Homo sapiens: one gene and its partners. The protein of the gene in region 4 purifies or fractionates together with the protein of the main gene of each other region. This does not show direct contact. Each region holds a gene or a part of one and is shown on either strand. Other genes may lie near its edges.

What was found. Proteins that work in one complex are often made in the same cells at the same time.
Region 1: the proteins of TPD52L2 (region 4) and THG1L fractionate together in Homo sapiens (co-fractionation; one large-scale study listed by BioGRID). This does not show direct contact.
Region 2: the proteins of TPD52L2 (region 4) and C15orf40 fractionate together in Homo sapiens (co-fractionation; one large-scale study listed by BioGRID). This does not show direct contact.
Region 3: the proteins of TPD52L2 (region 4) and MTR fractionate together in Homo sapiens (co-fractionation; one large-scale study listed by BioGRID). This does not show direct contact.

The regions. Positions count from the first base shown.
Region 1 is NC_000005.10:157,729,244-157,734,277, forward strand, and holds the start of THG1L (probable tRNA(His) guanylyltransferase), read left to right. Parts: upstream 1-2,176; 5' UTR 2,177-2,197; coding exon 2,198-2,388; intron 2,389-2,555; exon of another isoform or gene 2,556-2,766; intron 2,767-3,186; exon of another isoform or gene 3,187-3,367; coding exon of another isoform or gene 3,368-3,372; intron 3,373-3,624; coding exon 3,625-3,801; intron 3,802-5,034. UniProt on the Homo sapiens protein: Adds a GMP to the 5'-end of tRNA(His) after transcription and RNase P cleavage. This step is essential for proper recognition of the tRNA and for the fidelity of protein synthesis.
Region 2 is NC_000015.10:83,008,782-83,013,798, forward strand, and holds the start of C15orf40 (UPF0235 protein C15orf40), read right to left. Parts: upstream 2,859-5,017; 5' UTR 2,827-2,858; coding exon 2,716-2,826; exon of another isoform or gene 2,705-2,715; intron 1,583-2,704; coding exon 1,456-1,582; intron 1-1,455.
Region 3 is NC_000001.11:236,895,272-236,899,849, reverse strand, and holds part of MTR (methionine synthase), read right to left. Parts: intron 4,493-4,578; coding exon 4,300-4,492; intron 2,845-4,299; coding exon 2,732-2,844; intron 2,293-2,731; coding exon 2,206-2,292; 3' UTR 1-2,205. UniProt on the Homo sapiens protein: Catalyzes the transfer of a methyl group from methylcob(III)alamin (MeCbl) to homocysteine, yielding enzyme-bound cob(I)alamin and methionine in the cytosol. MeCbl is an active form of cobalamin (vitamin B12) used as a cofactor for methionine biosynthesis.
Region 4 is NC_000020.11:63,878,647-63,883,854, forward strand, and holds part of TPD52L2 (tumor protein D54), read left to right. Parts: intron 1-4,072; coding exon 4,073-4,174; intron 4,175-5,208.

The DNA of each region.
Region 1 (5,034 bases), on a different chromosome or scaffold from region 4:
CCTTGCATTAATTTATTAATGTTAACCCCAATTCATTTACATGAAACCTTATAGATTATTCCATTTAATCCTAACCAATTTGACCATGAGGTGAAAACTTTACAAACCTTTTATAACCCTTTTACTAAAGGGCAGATTAGCATCTTAAGACCTCCTTGCTATGCTGTTATTTTAATGCTTAATTTATGTAAAGACCATATAGATGCTATGGGAGAAGACAGTGTAGTACTTCTACTATGCATTTCACTGCAAAGCAACCCAAAGCCAATTGGCTTATTTTATATTCAGCCCATCCCTGATAGGAGTCTCATCTCCCAGTGTGGGATGTGGATGGGGAAACCCTGTTTCTACAAAAAAAAATACAAATATTAGGTGGGCATGGTGGCACGCACCTGTAGTCCCAGCTACTAGGAAGGGAGGTGGGAGGTTCACCTGAACCCAAGAGGTCTAGGCTGCAGTGAGCTGAGATCATGCCATTGTACTCCAGCCTAGGTGACAGTGAGACTCTGTCTCGAAAACATACACATAAAAAAAATAAAAATCATGAATTCATATTGATAAGTAATTTTGAAAAATTCACCTAATGAAAGTAGGGCTCCTAGAGGAGGCAAGATTTGGTTGTCTCCTGGTCAGCTTGGAGAGAGGAGTTTGTGGAAGTAAAAGGTGAGGAATGATAACCTACAGAAAACTGACTTCACAGCAACAGAAACAAAGAAAAGATGCAGGATGTCATAATTTATGTCTTGGTCCTGCCACATATGTGACCTTATGTAAATTATTTTTTTCTCTTTGAGTCTCAGATTTCCCCTTTGTAAAGGTGAAATCCCAGTTCCTCTTTTGCATCCCTCTGATGTTACTCTGAGCATCAAAGGAGTGATGACTACCATTTGTGGTACTATTATGAGGATATACACACATACTGATATAGATCCCTGTATGGATACACAAAAAACTGGTAACAGTAACTGCCTAAAGTATGTTGTTAGGAGTCAGTGAGAGACTTTTTGCTACATATAAAAGGATTTATATTGTTTGAATATTTTTCTTTTTCTTTAGAGACAGATTCTTGCTCTGTCACCAAGGCTGGAGTGCAGTGGCTAATGATGGGTCACTGCAGTCTCGAACTCCTGGCCTCAAGTATCTTCCCACCTCATCCTCCCATAGCTAGGACTACGGGCATGGGCTACTAAGCCTGGATAATTTTTTTTCTTTTTTGTAGGAACAGGGGTCTTGCTACGTTGCCAAGGCTGGTATGAATCTCCTGAACTCAAGCAATCCTCCTGCCTCTGCCTCCCAAAGTGCTGGGATTACAGGCGTCAGCCACCGTGCCTGGCCTGAATATCTTTCTTGAGGATGGAAAAAAAAAAAAAGTAAGTAAGTAGGTAATGAATTTGAAAGAGCTTTGTAAATCACAAAGTATGACACAAATATTAGGATTTTATTTTTACTATTATCCACCAGCAACAAGATATCAAACACTGGTTCTGTGATTATTTAATGGTGAAAAAGTTGAATAAATCAATTTAGTATACCCATATGTTGGAATATTGAGTCCATTTTTCTTTTAAAAATCACACTTTGGAATAATTGATGATACTGGCAAATGCTCAAGCTGAGTGGAAAAATATATAAACATTGTATAGGCGAATAATTCCAATCTTGTGCATTCCCTGTGTAAACCTACATACACAAAAAGAAAAAAGACTGAAAGGAACCATCCACAATGCTTTGATGGGAAAGACGGAGAAACAAAGTGTTAATTTTCTTAACTATAGTTTTGGTGTATTCCAGATTTTCTACAAGTTAATAAATGCCACTAAGAAAAGGGGAAACATCACAGCTACACCTTCAAACACCAGAAAAAGAATTTTTTTTTTTTTTTTTTTTTTTAGGTTGGGGTATGATTTTGATCTGGGCACTAACGGGGACACTGATTGCTTTTGCCAGTAAGTCAAGACCAGCAGATAAAAAATAATTTTTAAAAACCTCGTGAGACTGATTTGCCGCAGGACGGGAGGAGGAAGAAGCAAGCGTGGAAGGTGCTAACGGAGGAACCTAAACCTCCATCCTCTTTGCCTGGGAGGTTAAGAACTACAGGGAGAGGCGAGAGAGACTATGACTGCCCTACGGCTAGAGTAGCCGCGAAGAGAACACTTCCGGGGCGGGGCTATCTGGCCCTTTCCTTTCCGCGTGTAGAATGTGGGGCGCCTGTAAAGTTAAGGTTCACGATTCCTTGGCCACCATTTCCATCACTCTGAGACGGTACCTGAGATTGGGGGCGACCATGGCAAAAAGCAAGTTCGAGTACGTGAGGGACTTCGAGGCTGACGACACCTGCCTGGCACACTGCTGGGTGGTAGTGCGGCTGGACGGCCGGAATTTCCATCGGTGAGCGAGCTCGACTCGGGGCGTCGCGATGCGCCAGCGCTTCCGGGGAATCCAGCTTCTTCCCTTGCAAGTCCTCCCGCCCGCTCCAGTCACGGTTACCAGGGTAACGCGGTAGCCAATGAGTGCGCAGCATGGAGCATTGCCCCGCCCTGCGTGTTGGCTAGGACAGTGCCTGAACGCTGGCTGTTAGCGTAATTGAATGGGCGATGTGCTCCCGTGATGAGGATCTGGCTTGGAGTGCCCGTGTTAAGTGAACAGAGACTTGTTAGCAAGGACCTGTTGTTAAAAGTCACTCTCATGCACAATATTTAAGCTCTTAAGCCAATTGCCTAGCTATTCTGTTAGATATCTTTGAATGCTGACTGTTCAGAAGTCTGTGTAAGCCTTGCTTGTGGGCAATACTTAACGTCTGTGCTTCATTATCAGTAACAGGCCACATGGACTAGATTCAACAGAGAGTCAGAAAAAAAGAGAAGGCTGGGCGCGGGAGGCAGGAGGATCACTTAAGGCCAGGAGTTGGAGACCAAGTTTTTGTTTTTGTTTTGTTTTTTCTGTGGTTGTTGTTTGTGAAACTCCGCCACTACAAAAAAAAAAAAAAAAAAAAAAAAAAAAAGAGAGAGAGAGAGAGAAAGAAGGAAGAGAGAAAGAAAGAAAAAGAAAAAATTTAATTTGCCCGGCGCAGTGGTGCACACATGTAGTTCCAGCTACTGGGAAGGCTGAGGTGGAAGGATCGCTTGAGCCTGGGAGGTCAAGGCTGCAGTGAGCGGTGATTGGACACTGCACTCCAGCTTGGGTGACAGAGCAAGACCCTGTCTCAGAAAAAGAGGGAGGGGGAGAAAGAAATATAACAGAAAGATGGGAATTTAATCTTTGAAGAGGGCTGCATTGTTAATGATTATTATAACTAACATTTATTGAGCACTTACTAGGAGCTAGGTATGATTACTTTTATCTTCTCCCTAATCTTCAGGACAACCCAATGAGGTAAATATTCTTTTATTCCCATTTCACAGAAAGGAGAGTTGAGGCTTAGCATTTCTGTCTGGCTTTCTCAATTTCAGGGCAGGAAAAAAACTAAGTTCTTAAGAAAATGGATCAGGTTGTGGCTAGTTGAGCATTTGAGTTCACAGTGCTATTACATTATCTTCCTCCAAACAGCCTCTGTTATCTAGCAACAGAGCGTGTTGTTAATGACAGGCTTCCATCCATGCTTTCTTCCCTTTTTCCCCTGTGAAGGTTTGCTGAGAAGCACAACTTTGCAAAACCCAATGACAGCCGTGCTCTCCAGCTGATGACCAAATGTGCGCAGACTGTGATGGAAGAACTAGAGGATATTGTGATCGCGTATGGACAGAGTGATGAGTACAGCTTTGTGTTCAAGCGGAAAACCAATTGGTTTAAAAGAAGAGCCAGGTAATTCCATGACCTAACTCCTTTCTTCAGAATATTTCCTCCCAGCATCTGGTTTTCTGTTTATCTTAATCGCAGACTTACAGGCTACAGATGATGTCTGCAGTATTTGTAACTGCAGAGTACATGTATATTTCCTGTTTAGATTGTTGTACTTCCATCTGATAGCCGAGCATTCTGTGTGCCTCTTTTATCTGATTCTTTCCCCACATGCCCCATAAGATTGGTTTCTAGACTGACCTGGCATTGAACATTAAGATTAGAAACAGAGACTATAAGAATGTAATATTAACAATTCATAGGTTGGCTTTAGCCAGTGATAGTCTCTACGTGCATTGCATTACACTGTTCCTCAAGACAGATCTCATTATAAAATACACAAATCTGATATTTGATTTGGCAGTATTTTGAAACGCTGTATGGGAAACAAATCATATAATGAATTGGTTTTTTCTTTCTTTCTTTTTTTAATAGAGGTGGGGTCTCTCTGTGTTGCCCAGGCTGGTCTCAAACTCCTGGCCTCAAGCAGTTCTCCTGTCTTGGCCTCTCGAAGTGCTAGGATTACAGACATGAGCCACCACGCCCAGCCTGAATTGGCATTTTTTTTACAACAATGGTTTCTCTCCTTTCATGACTGTAAACACAAACAGATCAGGCGTGGTGGCTCACGCCTGTAATCCCAACACTTTGAGAGGGTAAGGGAGAGGATTACTTGAGCCCAGAGGTTTGAGACCAGCCTGGGCAAGATGGTGAGACCTCATCTCTACAAAAAATTTAAAAATTAGCCGGGCTCAGTGGCATGTGCCTATAGTCACAGCTACTAAGGAGGTTGAGGCAGGAGGATCCATTGAGCCAAGGAATTTGAGGCAGCAGTGAGCTATGATTGTGCCAATCCACCCCAGCCTGAGGGACAGAGAGATTCCATCTTTTAAAAAATAAAATAAAATTTAAAAATACCCCTTGAATCATAAATTCGTATCACATCCTGTAGGGAAAGGTTTAGTATCAGTAGGTTACTTAATAGAACTGGAAGGAGAGGCAGGCTGCATTTAAAATACATAACTGGCCAGGTGTGATGACTCACGCCTGTAATCCCAGCACTTTGGGAGGCTGAGGCAGGCAGATGACTTGAGGTCAGAAGTTTGAGACTAGCCTGGCCAACATGGTGAAACCCCATCTCTACTGAAAATACAAAAATTAGCTGGGCGTAGTGGCCTGCACCTGTAATCCCAGCTA
Region 2 (5,017 bases), on a different chromosome or scaffold from region 4:
AATTAAAAACTGTTGAATGAAGAAATGAATGATTAAACTAATCACATTTAAGGAACATGAACATGATAAAAATGGCCCTACCATTACAGGAAATAAATCCAGAGAAGAAAAGTTATTGACCCAATCTTGCCGACCAAGATGGGCTTACAGAGCCCTGGGGAATATCCTGGATTTAGGCAACTGGAAATTGCCCTTGGTATGTGAAGAGCCCCAGGCAGGGAGTCATAGATGGCCTTCAGCCTCATCAATGTCACTGAAGAAGTGTATGGACAGGGCAGCTTACTAGATTGTACAAGGTTGTGCAGGGTTTCCTCAACAGGAAAATGAGAGCCCCGGACTAGGTTCACCTCTTATGTGACACATATCTTGAGTGTTTTTAAAATTTAATAATGTTTACTTAACAAATATTTACAGAGCACTTACTATACACCAATTTTAAGCACACACAAATGTGTTAAAGGCTTTACAAATACTAACTTCTTTAATCCTTATAATAACTTTATGAAGATATTAGTACCATTATTATCTCCATTTTACAAATGAGCCATGGCATCCAGCCTCCCATTTTAGATCTAATGAAACATAATACTCCAACGTAGACAGTGTCCACACCCACTACTTAGAAAATGCTGGCCAAGGAGGGTATGGCTAAGTTAACTTGGTCATCAGCATAAACCAGGTCTAGCACGTCAATGTTGTGGTTTTCCTTTCAAAATCTAAAAATGGTTTGAAATACAGAGCTTTAGAGGTGAAAAAGACCTTCAAAAGAATTTAGAGCAATGGTTTTTGAACTTTTTTTCCTTTAGAATCCCTTCCCCCAATTTTCTCCAGAATCCCAATATGTAAAACAAATGTAAACAGAGCTAGTCAGGAGCCCTGTCTGCCTGGCCTCCTCCTTGCCCAAAGCTGATTCCTGAGGCACCTCCAGCACTCCAGAGAATAGCCTGAAAGCCTCTAACTTAGTCCAACGATCTCATCTGACAGATGAAAAAACTGGACCCATGAATGTTTTATACTGTTTTGATTTAAAACAAATTCGCACAGGAACTGATCACGGGTCTCAGATCTCAAGTTTTCTCCCTCTCCTTAGGCCAGTGATCATTAAACTACACTAAAATGTCTCTTCTTTCTCTGGCCAATGTCTCCAGTTTTGGAACAGGACAAACTAAGAATAATCCAGACTACACACAAGTTTCCATAACTGTCCTTTCTAAAATACTGTATTTTTAAAGAGGAAAATATACAATGGTTTTCGTGTAACTTGGCATGATTTAAAGATATATTCACTTTAAGACACCTTTACATTAGAATCTAGAATTTTAAAATGGAGAAGCCTCTAACTGCAGATGTGAAAAATCAACTGTCATAGAATAAGCTTTCAGCTAACCAAAGCAAAGGAGGGCTGTAGGAGACACCTGATTCACACTTGAATCCCACCCCAGTGTCCAGGTATACCTGTTACAGCATTTTGTTTGGAGCCAGGTTTTGCATGGATGGCTATGGTGACGCATCCTTTAGGATCAACTGCCACAGGACCTAAGGGAGGAAGTGGTCTCTCTGGTTCCTTGCTCTGGCTTTTACCCTAAAATGACAACCACACAACTTTACAGGTTACAAAATATTTTCCCACACATTTAATTTGATTCTTCCACTACCCCCTTTCACCCTTAACAGACAAACTAGGCTCATCAGTGGTGTCCAGGGACTTCTGGCCACCTAGAAAGCTTTTCCCACAACCTTCAAGGCTCTACTCAATTTTCCCACGAAGGGTTCCCATCAACCCAACAGTGTTTTTTCCCCCCTTGCAAGAAAACCTAACTCTGGCTTCTAAACCTTAATGCTTGCTCCTCCCTCTGCTTTGTATTTCCAATTCCTTGGGGGCAGGGATCATTTATTATTCATCATTGTATCTCATGCAGTCGGAGCTAATAAATGTTGGTGAAAGTGTGTATGTCTGCATGTTGCGGGAAAGGGAGGAAAAAAAAATAGTGCTTGATATTTAAAGGCCTGTTATGGGACAGGGGCTGTGCTAGGAACTTTCGTTCAACAAATATGTAGGCAATGGATATGTAAAGATGAAAAGGTACATGGTCCTTGCTCTCAAGGAGCTCGGACTGCTGCGAGGGAGAAAGAACATACAAAATTATAATACACTGTGCTAAGTGCACCGATGAGATAGGCACAGAACATTACCCCACAGGCAAATCAGCATTGGGGCACTGGAGAATGCTGCCAGCAGGAGGCAGTGCTTGAGCTGAGTCTGAGAAACGGACTGGGGTTGGCCAAACAAAGATGGTGGAAATGGGAGTGCTGTATTCTTGACAGAAGGGGTGCGATCAGCCAAAGCAAGGGAGGAGAAAGCAGAATACAGCCTCCTGGGGAAACGCAGGTCATGCCGCTGCGGGAACATGAATTGCTGGACTGGGAGTGCGGGTAGGAGGCCAAAGGTCAGCACACGCAGCCCAAGGAGAGCTCGGCTGCCGCCGGGCCCAGCGCTCAGAAATCACCAGGTGGACGGCAGCGCAGCCTACTGAGGCGGGGCGACGGCAGCAGGCCGCAGCTCTGGGGGTGGCGGCGGCTGTCCTGAGCCCCGGAACTGAGAGACGGCAAGCCGCTGGCAGTGCCTCCACTCACTCCCGGGCCCCGCTTCTCCCGCGCTCTTCAACAAGTACCCCTGAGGCCCACCCCTCTGCCGCCACGGGACCTGCTACTGGCCTTGGTCGTCGCACCAGCCTTCTTAGGCATCTCGGCGCAAAGAAGCCGAGCGGAGCCCCGAGTATTGGGTGTTGCCCGAAGGTGCCTCAGCCCGCTGCGGAGCCGCAGCATCCCCGCCTGGGAAGGCGCCGGAAGAGCCCTCTGCGCTTGCGCAGGTAGCCGGCAGGAGCGGCCCCACCGCCCGGCGCATCCGCTCTGGCCAGAGGGCGACACCTTAAGGCCGGCGGGAGCGAGTCTCGTGGCCGCAGAACATGCGCGAGTCTCTTTTGTTCTGGAACGGGCCGAGCCCCAGGAAGTGGAGCTGCGGAGCTGAGGCCTCACCGTGTCTTGGCCCACCCTGCTCAGCTGATAGGAAGGTGTGTCACCTCTTTCCTAATCGGGGAAAGAAAGGTATTGTCACTTCTCAGAATTGGAGAGCGCGGCAAGGAGTGCACAGGGCCAGGTGTCTTCTCGCTCCCACAGCCAAGCAGCAGATGCAGAGTCCCACGCGCTGCCTGTGGCCATCAAGTCGATATAGAGCCTCGTGGCGGCTTGGCCCTTGTGAATCTTCCACGTATCGATGGCGCACCTACCTTGTGCCAGGCGCAGCGGATCCCACAATGTAAAAGAAGAGGAAATACACTGCGACATGTGATATGGAGAGACATGAAACAAATCAGCAGAGGCAAGATCATGGAGTCACTGAAGGCTTTCAAGCAAGGGATTATTAGCAGCCCAATTTGCTGGGTTTTAGAAAGACACCGGCTGCACTGTGGCCGACAGAGGAAAAGCCAGAGACAGGGAGATCCGCCCCCTAAATGGGAGAGGGTGGCCTGAACTAGAGTAACCGCAGGGAGGGTGGAGCGCTGATCATTTCAAGGATCTTCAGGAACTGAAATGATCAGAACTTGGGAATGACTGCATGTGCGAATAAGGGGGAAAAGTCAAGGAAATGCCCAGGTTTGGGGCCCAAGGAACAGGTTTGGGAGGCCGAGGTGAGGAGTTCAGCTTTGGACATAATGAGTTTGAGATGCCCACAGGACATCCAAATACAAATGTTAAAGGGGTAACTGAATATATGTGACTGGAGTTTGCGAAATCAAGGCTGGTGATAGAGATTCTGGAATCTTCTGAAAGCAGATGGCAATTGAAGCTATGGAAATGGATGAGAGAGTGTGTAAAGAGCACGAGGGCCCAGGTTAGAACAGCAAGGGCAGGTAGAGAAGTCACCAAAGGACACTGACCAGGTAGGAGTACGGTGTAACGGCAGCTAAAGAAGGGCGCTTCAAGAGGGAACATCAACAGTGATGAACACTCTGGAGAGAACATGTCACATGTAACGACTGAGAAGTGGCCACAAGATTTAGAAATCAGGGTGGTGGTGGTGACCCGGGCTACAGCAGTTTTAGTGGAGAGAAGGAAATGGAGATAATTGTAGAGAATAATCCAGTGACTTCACTGTGAAGGAGCAATTGGTATCTGGAGGGGCACATGACATTCAGAGACTTATTTTTATCATATTTGAAGATTGGTAGGAAAGAGCCAGGAGAAGAGAGGTTACAGCAGAGGACGGTTCCTGAAGAGGTAGGATCTGAGCTCAAGTAGAGATTGAGTTCTCTACAGGAGGCCTTAGACACTCCTTCCTTCCTAAGGGAAAGCTTAGGTGGACATGTAGCTGTGTTTGTAGGTTTGGTGATGGGAGGTGGAATTTCTTTCATTAACTAAGGCGGGGGAGGTGTTGAAGGTATATTGGGACTCTTGAGAATGGCAAAGGGCTGACTATTGCAACTCACCCAGCGGTAGACAGTTAAGGGAGACCGTGAAATCATCTATGATCCCAATCTATAGTTACCTTATTTTATTTTTGTTTATTTTTGAGACAGGGGGATGGGAAGAGCCTGTCGCCCAGGCTGGAGTGCAGTGGCGGGATCTCGGCTCACTGCAACCTCCGCCTCCTAGGTTCAAGCAATTCTCCCTGCCTCAGCCTCCAGAGTAGCTGGGACTACAGGCGCGCGCCACCACACCCATTTTTTGTATTTTTAGTAGAGACGGGCGTTTCGCCATTTCGCCCAGGCTGGTCTCGAACTCCTGAGCTCAGGCAATCCACCCACTTCGGCCTCCCAAAGTGCTAGGATTACAGGCGTGAGCTAGCGCCTGGCCTATAGTTACGTTACTTTAGATGCCTGGATTCACCAGCTAAGAAGTTTTTTTTTTAATTAAATTTTTTTTTGGCCCCAGTGCTACTACCAAAGCAGTCAGGAAGTTGAAGATAAGGCAGACAACTGGATTGATTCAGGTATATTTAAGTGGGTTGAGGGTTATT
Region 3 (4,578 bases), on a different chromosome or scaffold from region 4:
ATGCTACAGAACATCTATTTATTTAAAAGCCCTATTTCCTCTTGTGTAGTCTTCACTATTTTTCTATTTTTTTAAATAGGAATTCTCTATATTTGTGATTATGAATCCTTCATCAGTTATTTGTATTATAAATGTCTTCTCAAGTTGTGGATCATCTTCTCACTTCAAGTGTTTGCTTAATATAAGCCTTGAGTTTTAACAGAATTGACTTAACCATCTTGTCCTTTATGATTACTACTTTATGTCTCAAGAGATTCTTTCCTGCCCTAAGGCTTTTTTCATCCAAACACTGACAATTTTTGCTTTTTGTATTAAAGCCCTTAACATATTTGGAACTTATCACCAGGTAAGGTGAGAGAAAGTAAAATTTCTTTTTTTCCCACATGAATAGCCATTGTTCTGGGATTACTTAGGGAGTGGTCCTTCCTGTCCCCACTGACTTGCCATGTCACCAGGTCATTTTGCAAAGGTCAACATATGCACGGGTGAGTTTCTAGGCCCTTATTTTGTTCCCCTGCTCAGAATGCCTACCTCTGCACCATGACACTGTCTTGACAATAAAACTTGGTATCACATAGGGTGCGTGTCCCCAACCTCTCCTTCATATTTAGAAGCATTTGGTAATTTTAAGTCCTTTGCTACTCCATATAAACACCTGCTTGTTTCATTCAATAAAATCTGTTGGAATTTCCATTGAAAATGGTATTAAATCCATAGATCAATTTTAGGAGACCTGATACCTTTATAATCTTGAATATTCCTATTCATGAACAAAGATGGTTCTTCATTTGTTCCTCCCTTGCTTCTTCGTCTTCATCCTTCGAATCAAACCAGGACTCCAATGTTACCTTCTCCTGACTATTGCCACCACCATCTTGAAGTAGGATGAGTGTATATTTTGCATGCAAATTTTTGAAATAACTGCAATCATCCAAGAAAAAGATGACATGGTTGAGTTTGAGGCTTGTTGCTTGAGTGGTGGCACCATTCTTCATTACTGAATATATTGAGAATTGAGGGGAATAAAATGGTAAGAAATGAGTGACTTTATGCTGCCCACTTGTCCAACTCCGCACGGGATATCAGAGCCCAGCTGAGAACCTGCTCAATCCTGGAAACAATTAAAAGATGTTAACCGGCCAGGCTCGGTGGCTCACGCCTGTAATCCCAGCATTTTGGGAGGCTGAGGTGGGCAGATCACGAGGTCGGGAGATCAAGACCATCCTGGCTAACACAGTGAAATCCTGTCTCTACTTTTTTGTATTTTGTAAAAACACAAAAAATTAGCCGGGTGTGGTGGCGGGCACCTGTAGTCCCAGCTACTCTGGAGGCTGAGGCAGGAGAATGGCATGAACCCAGGAGGCGGAGCTTGCTATGAGCCGAGATTGCGCCCCTGCACTCCAGCCTGGGCGACAGAGCCAGACTCTGTCTCAAAAAAAAAAAAACCAAAACAAAACAAAACAAAAAAAATGTTAACCACCCTTAACAGTAACTTTCTCTCCTCATTTCCTTTTTGTTTCCTCAGGGGTACGGAAATATGAAATTATGGGAGGACGAAAATGCCCAGAAAGCATGGCTGCTTGACCACACTGGGGCAAATGGCTTCAGTGTTTCTGACAAGCAAGCAGTGAGCGCATGCCTTTTGCCAAAGGGAGTTCTGCAGCCATTTAGTCCAGCCTTTAGAAAACGAGGTCTTCCGAAGAGAACAGAGCTACACCTTCCCCGTCAGAATCCACTGTTATAACCACTTAGATTAAAATGCCCCATTTCTCACAGTATCATTTTGTCACAGGGTCACACTTCTCTATTCAACTCAGTTTCAGGCTTTTCTTCTAAGAGGAAAAAAAGACGACTAAGTGGCCTCCTAGATTCCACTGTAAAAACAGAAAAAAGCAGGTTGACTTGCTTTGAAATCAAACGACCTCTGTCTTCAGTCTGTCCCCATCTCAGAGGGACCAGGGAAACCACAGGAACCCTGCTCACTGCTCTTCACGCAAGGTCCCAAAAAAACAGCGCCTGTTTTCCAGGCACTGCAGGAAGACCCTGCTCCTCTACAAGGTTCCACTAAATAGTCTTCGAAAACCAGAAGCAGGTAAGTGTCAGCCAGATGCACACAGGTTTTTTGTTGTTGTTATTTTTAAGGCACCCTAGGTTGTATTTCCTTGAGGATCATCAAGAATAAAAAAGGCAAAAAAAAAAAAAAAGTTAGTCTGTATCATATCCCAAAATGGGTCCAAGCCATTTCTCAACCTCAGCCACAGATATGTTCTTCCTCAATGCATAATCCTCAACCTGCAAAAGATGAGAAGCATTTTATTAAACCAACATGATAAGACTTTTGGAATAGAAGTTTCCACAAGATTTGCCAAGAAACATTAAGTACCTTGCATTTCTTGTCTTAATAGCAATCTACAGAGTTAAATGGAGATAGATATTTATCTACCAAGTTGCCTTTTTCTCTGGGCAGAAAAACATGTAGTAAACATCTGATGCTTAGAAGCTGTATGTGTGTGTGTGTGTGTGTGTGTGTGTGTGTGTGCGTGTGTGTGGCTTGCATGTAGAAGTGAGGGCTAGAATAGAGGTATTCTATTGAAATCAAATTAAGACATTAACTGGAGTAAATTTCTTCATCCTTTCCCCTCACTTTATTCTCATTCACATTTAAAATGAGAGAGGTTCTAGAATTTCATTTGAACTAGGCAAGCCACATATAATGCAACAGCTAGCTTACCTGATCCTTGGAAATCTTCCCCACAGCAAAATATTTGGACTTCAAATTGGAGAAGTAGAGGCCTGAGACTGCTGAAGCAGGTGCCATTGCTAATGATTCTGTTAACCTAATGCCTAGAGGGAGCAACACAGGGAAAATGCTTATGGACTCAGTGTCTAGCACAGGGCCTGCAGCTAGCAGGCACTCAATGAACTCTTGTTGAACAAGTGAACCAAAGCGAGCTCATGCCTTCTAGGTAGACACATGACACAGCATGAAAGCTGTGATCAGAGAAGTCTAGCAAATTCCTGCCAGGTGAAGAAACAAATTCGGGACATGCAGATCTCCTCTAACCCAGGGGGACAGGCCTGGGAAAGACTCTACACTCCCACCTCCAGCCATCCCAGATCAGTTACAGGTGCCCTAATTTGCTCCTAAGCCTAGACCTTCTCAGGCAGGAGCTCTACCCCTGGAGATGAGAACAACAACTGAACAGCCTCCACCGGCTCTGTGCGGCCACTGATACTAGGGACGACTGAGAGCTCCAGTGAAGAAGGAACCCACAACATTGTGAGAAAGAAGAGACAGTTTTCCTTGGGATCTGAGAGCTCAAACAGACCCTCAAGGATATCTATTCGAAGCCACTCATTCTATGAACAAGGAAACAGAGCAACATGAAGGGTGAGTGCTTTGCCAGAGGTCGCCCAGCTAGCTTATGGCAGAAACAGGACTCAAACCCAGATCTCATGACTCCTAGAGTTAGTGTTGTTCCTGCTGAAGCAGATTCAGCACAGCTCATGGTTTCTCACTTAAATCTGGATGCCTTTATCAGCTTTGATGGCATGCTTTTTATTAATTCCGCTGAAAACTGTGAGCTTAGCCTGGGCCATCTCAACTACATGAACTCTGCAGTAATGACAGAACCAGGACATTGACATGACAATGTGCAGCCACAGAACCACGAGCCAAGTCAGCTCTGGGCACAGGACGCTGAGGCCGGGTGTCTGGGCCTTTGTCTCAGAAAGGCACATGCCAGCTTGTCATTTTCAGCTTTTAGAATCAATCCACAGGCAAAACATAACAGAGAATTATGATTACAGAAGAATATAAATGTTACTAACAGTGTAAAAGTAAAGAGAAAAGAGGGCTGAAGGGAAGGCTGGGCGCTCTGCAAGACCAGCACCCAGGGACACCATCCACAAGCAATGAGACAAGAGCATGAAGCAAAGTGACATTACTGAGGGACAAAGGTCGGTCTCTAAGGGAGGGATTAAAGACATCACCATGCCTGTGACAGGAAACTGGGGCAGGAGAGGCACAGGATGGTATACATAAGCTAAACTCCCATCTGGCGTAGGCCAAGAGGAAATAATTTAAATTGATACATCTAAAAATAATGATGTAAGAATACTAATCAGTAATACTGAAGTAAAATGCAGAATAGCTACGAGTGAAAAAGGACAGCATAAGGGACAATGTGATTAGAAGCCCTTCCATTTTAAAAACATGTTTAACCCTAAGTGCCAGTATGCTGATAAGAGTATCTACTGAAGAAGGAAGACAGGAACCCGCAGCCTCCTGGCTCCTACCTGTAGACTGCTCGATGTCTGCGAGTCTCCACATGGTGAGCTTCTCGGTGTGGTCGGGCTGGCTGGGGTAGCCAGGAGCCGGGCGGATGCCCTTGTACCGCAGCCTGCGCAGGTCTGCGACGTCCAGCTGCTCACTGCCACAGTAGGCCCACAGTTCTCGGCGAACTCTTTCATGGAGCTCTTCTGCAAAGGCCTTGGGACCCAAAGCAGCAGGCATGCTTAGGCAGACGCAGGGGCTCACAGCATCAGTGCAGCCTCCACCCCCTGAATTAGAACCAT
Region 4 (5,208 bases):
TGAGTGGGAGTGGGGGCAGCCCCCAGAGACAGACTCAGGAGAGGGGGAGTGCAAGGATGTCCCCCAGATGCCCTGTGCTGCCCAGGGGACAGCTCACTGGCAGTGGGACGAAACCGCTGTCTGTCCAGGGCTCTCTTCCTAGAAGGTCTTAGGAACTCCCAAATGGGTGCTGGCTGGGGTTGCCCGGCCCGGTGCTCTCAAGGAGAGCTGAAGCTAGTTATTGGGTGCAGATGCTGGCTCTGACCCCTGCCCCTTCCTCCCGGGCTCAGCTTCCCCATCTGTCATGGAGTAATAACAACCCAGCCTTCTGGTCCACTGAGGAATGTGTGTGCCTGTGTGTTTGACGCTCTCAGAACAGGCCTGCAGCGCTGTGAGCCTTGGAAGGGGGCCTCACAGCTGCTGCCGCCACCTTGGAGGCCCAGGATGGGACTGAGAAGGGGAAGGGAGAGGTCAGAGCCACAGCTGTTGGGCAGGGACCTGCTGTAGGAAGAGAAGGCCAGGGAGGCGCTGGTGGTGGCCTCAGGCTATGCAGGTGATGCCCATTGTTTCCAGGGCCATCCCAGTTTGGAGGTTCCTGTTTCTAGAGGAGGTTCCCTTGTGACCCCCTCATTTCCACACCCGAGCAATGCTGAGGGCTGTGGGGCCCCCAGGGGCTTGAGTGTGGTTTATGGCACAGCAGGGACTGATCACAGTGGCACCGGGTGTCAGTGGCCAGTGGTCAGTGGCCAGGAACCCTCAGGACCCTCCTCCTTGTGTGGGTGGCATTTACCCACCCACAGGTCACGCTCAGGACCCGCATCTCATTCCGATCCTCCTTGTGTGGGTGGTACTTACCCACCCACAGGTCACGCTCAGGACCCCACATCTCATTCTGAAGGCCGGGCACAGGCGGTTGTTTTCTCTCCAACTTCGGTTTCCCCATCCCCACTCTTAGGGCACAAATGCAGGTGTAGCTTCCCCATGCCCACTCTTTAGGCACAAATGCAGGTGTAGCTTCCCCATCCCCACTCTTAGGGCACAAATGCAGGTGCAGCTTCCCCATCCCCACTCTTAGGGCACAAATGCAGGTGCAGCTTCCCCATCCCCACTCTTTAGGCACAAATGCAGGTGCAGCTTTCCCATCCCCACTCTTAGGGCACAAATGCAGGTGCAGCTTTCCCATCCCCACTCTTAGGGCACAAATGCAGGTGCAGCTTCCCCATCCCCACTCTTAGGGCACAAATGCAGGTGCAGCTTCCCCATCCCCACTCTTAGGGCACAAATGCAGGTGCAGCTTCCCCATCCCCACTCTTTAGGCACAAATGCAGGTGCAGCTTCCCCATCCCCACTCTTTAGGCACAAATGCAGGTGCAGCTTCCCCATCCCCACTCTTAGGGCACAAATGCAGGTGCAGCTTCCCCATCCCCACTCTTTAGGCACAAATGCAGGTGCAGCTTCCCCATCCCCACTCTTTAGGCACAAATGCAGGTGCAGCTTTCCCATCCCCACTCTTAGGGCACAAATGCAGGTGCAGCTTCCCCATCCCCACTCTTTAGGCACAAATGCAGGTGCAGCTTCCCCATCCCCACTCTTAGGGCACAAATGCAGGTGCAGCTTCCCCATCCCCACTCTTAGGGCACAAATGCAGGTGCAGCTTCCCCATCCCCACTCTTTAGGCACAAATGCAGGTGCAGCTTCCCCATCCCCACTCTTAGGGCACAAATGCAGGTGCAGCTTCCCCATCCCCACTCTTTAGGCACAAATGCAGGTGCAGCTTCCCCATCCCCACTCTTAGGGCACAAATGCAGGTGCAGCTTCCCCATCCCCACTCTTTAGGCACAAATGCAGGTGCTGTGAGCGCTTTAGAATCCTCTGCTGCAGGTGACTTTGCTTCAGCGAACCACAGAATGTTCACATGGTTTTATGCATTTGTTATTTCAGGGAAAATCAAGGTTAAAGATGTCTTCAGAATTTGTATTTTTGGGCTGGGCACGGTGGCTCACACCTGTAATCCCAACACTTTTGGAGGCTGAGGCAGGCGGATCACGAGGTCAGGAGATCGAGACCATCCTGGCTAACACGGTGAAACTCCGTCTGTACCAAAAATACAAAAAAATTAGCCGGATGTGGTGGCGGGCGCCTGTAGTCCCAGCTACTCGGGAGGCTGAGGCAGGAGAATGGCGTGCACCCGTGAGGCAGAGCTTGCAGTGAGCCGAGATGGTGCTGCTGCACTCCAGCCTGGGCTACAGAGCAAGACTCTGTCTCAAAAAAAAAAAAAAAAGAATTTGTGTTTTTGAAACTAAATATAGCAGGTCATTAGTTACTTATAACTGGTGTTTTATTAATAAAAGAAGAAAAAATTTAAAAACAGCCATGATTCCAGCTGCACGGAGCCTGGATGGGAAAGTGCATCCTCTGGGCTGAGCACGGTGGCTCACACCTGTCATCCGAGCGGGCTGGGCGCAGTGGCTCACACCTGTCATCCCAGCACTGCGGGAGGCCGAGGCGGGTGGATCACCTGAGGTCAGGAGTTCAAGACCAGCCTGGCCAACATGGTGAAACGCTATCTGTACTAAAAAGACAAATTTAGCAGGGCGTGGTGGTGGGTGCCTGTAATCCCAGCTACTTGGGACGCTGAGGCAGGAGAATCTCTTGAACCCGGAGGCGGAGGTTGTAGTGAGCTGAAATTGCACCACTGCCCCCCAGCCTGAGTGACAGAGCGAGACTTTGTCTCAAAAAAAAAAAAAAGAAAGAAAGTGCATCCTCTGGTAGGCCTTGGGCCGGGGGCGGGCATGAGAGAGCTGCGCTGGGATGCGCTGCCAGGGCACACTTGGTGGGTCACACACTCTTGTCAACTGTTTGGGGGCTGGAGAGTAGTAGCACTCAGCTCACACGGGCCTTCTGCAGGGAGTGGTGGGAGGGCCTGTGAGTAAGGGCTCCGGAAGGCCCATCATTGGGACCTGGTGCCGCCAGTGGGAGCAGGAGGAGCCTGTGCCTTCTCTGGCGCCAGTCATCCCAGATGCCACTCAGGGCTTGGCTGGGTTTGCCAGCTCTCCAGGTTGGCACTGGTAACGCCAAGATGGTCCTGGGAGCCCATCTCCATTCAGCCTCGAGTTCCCTGGCTTCACTGAGGGAGGAGCCGTGATAAGGTGGCTGTGGGTTCGCATTTTGGACTTTGTTATGTCAGAGTCTGCTGTGTTTTGTGTTTATGGTGGCAGCTGGATGAGGGCCAGCGACTTCAGGTGTTGACTGTCATGGTGGGCCCAACAGTATCCCTGCAGCCACAGCATCCTGCCTGCTGCCCTTTGCCTGTCCTGCAGACGCCAAGGCCCTAGAGCTTTGCTTTGATGGGATGTACCCATGTGGGTGGACACTGGAGGGAGCTGGAGGGGATAGAAGCGGGGCCTTCACTAGGGGCCAGGACAGACCCTTGCACTGTGAAAAGAGGCCTGGGAATGGAACTGTCCGATGTTCTGAAGGCACACGGGGCCCCGCCGTCTGGAGCAGGGGCACCTTGCGGGCTGCATGGCCACTCTGTGACGCTCGTTCCCCACAGACGTGGTTGAGCTTGCATTTTCTCCCCTCAGCACAGTCTCATTTGGGAAGAGGAAAGGGAAACTTGCACGCATGGGCCGGTCAGGGCACTGAGAGGCCTTTCTGCTCTGGCACTGCCTGCCAGGCGTGCACCTCAGGGGGCCCGTCCGCTCTAGCAGGCAAATGGGGCGTGTTCTCTGTAGTCAGAGGGGCTGTGAGAAGACAGGAAAGCGAGCTTAGTGGGTATCAGGCAAGGGGGTGAAATTGGGTTGTGAGATGAGAAAGCAGCGTCATTGCAGGGCTGGGGGGCCGAGACTCGGCAGGGTCGCCGAGAGCTCAGTGAGCGAGCAATGCACAGGCGGCTCCTCGCCGCAGGGGCCTCTGGGGGCCGAGGGGCTCTGGGCCTGCACCCCCTCTGTAGACACCTGGCGAGTGTCCACCCCTTGGCCCAGCTCCTTTCCTCAGTTTTCCTCGGGCGTGCTCCCAGTGCTTTGTTTGCTTGGCTGTGGGTGGTGACCCGCCCATGCTGTCTGGTTGATTTAACTGGTGTGTCTTCCAGCTACAAGAAGACTCAGGAAACTCTTTCACAGGCAGGACAGAAGACTTCAGCTGCCCTGTCCACAGTGGGCTCTGCCATCAGCAGGAAGCTTGGAGACATGAGGTGAGACGCAACCCTGACTCTGCTGCCCTGAGACCTGGCCAGGAGTGAGGTGAGGTGTTGGAGGTGCTACAGGAAGCCTGCCTGGAGATCAGGGCTCAGATGCACTGGCTCAGGGATGTGGCCATCCATCATGGCCCCGACCAGTCTGTGTGCAGACCCTTGCCTGGGAGGTTCGTCCATCCCCGTTGGCTGCTTTTCTGCCGTTGCTGTGTTCTTCAGGGAGGGTTGGCTGCCAGTGCTGTTGGGTAACTTGTGGTGCTCGGGGTTGGTGAGGGAGGAGTCTGCACCTTGAAGCTTCACTGAGTGGCAGCGACTCCAGCCCAGGGGTCAGAGTCAGGTCAGTGTGGGACGGCAGTCCTCCACCATCTCTAGGACAGGGGCTCGGCGTGGTACTTCCTCAGGCTGTTTCCCAGGTCTCAGAAAGTGCAGTCAGACGCCAGGAGGCCCTGAATGAGCCTTCTCTCCCAGAGGCTGGTGAAAGCCTCCTGGCCATCAGAGGTCCCTCAGCAAGCAGGGCTGGGGCCAAGGAGTGAGCAGGGGGCCGGCGCTTTGTGGCTGGCATGTTTGCTCTTCCTTCCCTGTTCTAGGCTCCCTGACTACAGCATGGTGATGAGGGGATTGAGCCAGAAGCCTGGGTATGATGCTTGGCTGGGCTACCTCCTGGCTGGGCACCCCAGCTGGGCCTCAGGCACGCCTTCTTTCACAGGGGTTGTAGGAGTGGATGATATAGGTTGTCACCATCAACAGCATCCTGGCCCCAACTTCTGGGTGCTGCTGCCCACCCTGCCCTGACCCCTTTCCCATTCTCAGAACTGGTCTTCTGGCTTTTGGATCTCAGGGAGTGCCTCCCTGTAGCTCTGACCCAATCCTGGCAAAGATGGGTGCAGGCTTCCTAAAGGACCGGTGTGTGGAGCACAGTGCTGACCCCACCCAGCCCTCCCCTCTTCCCCTCTTGTGGCCCCTGCAGGATTCAGAGATACGTACATCTCCTGCTGGGCTGCCTGCCTGCCTGCCTGCCTGCCTCCCTGCCTGCC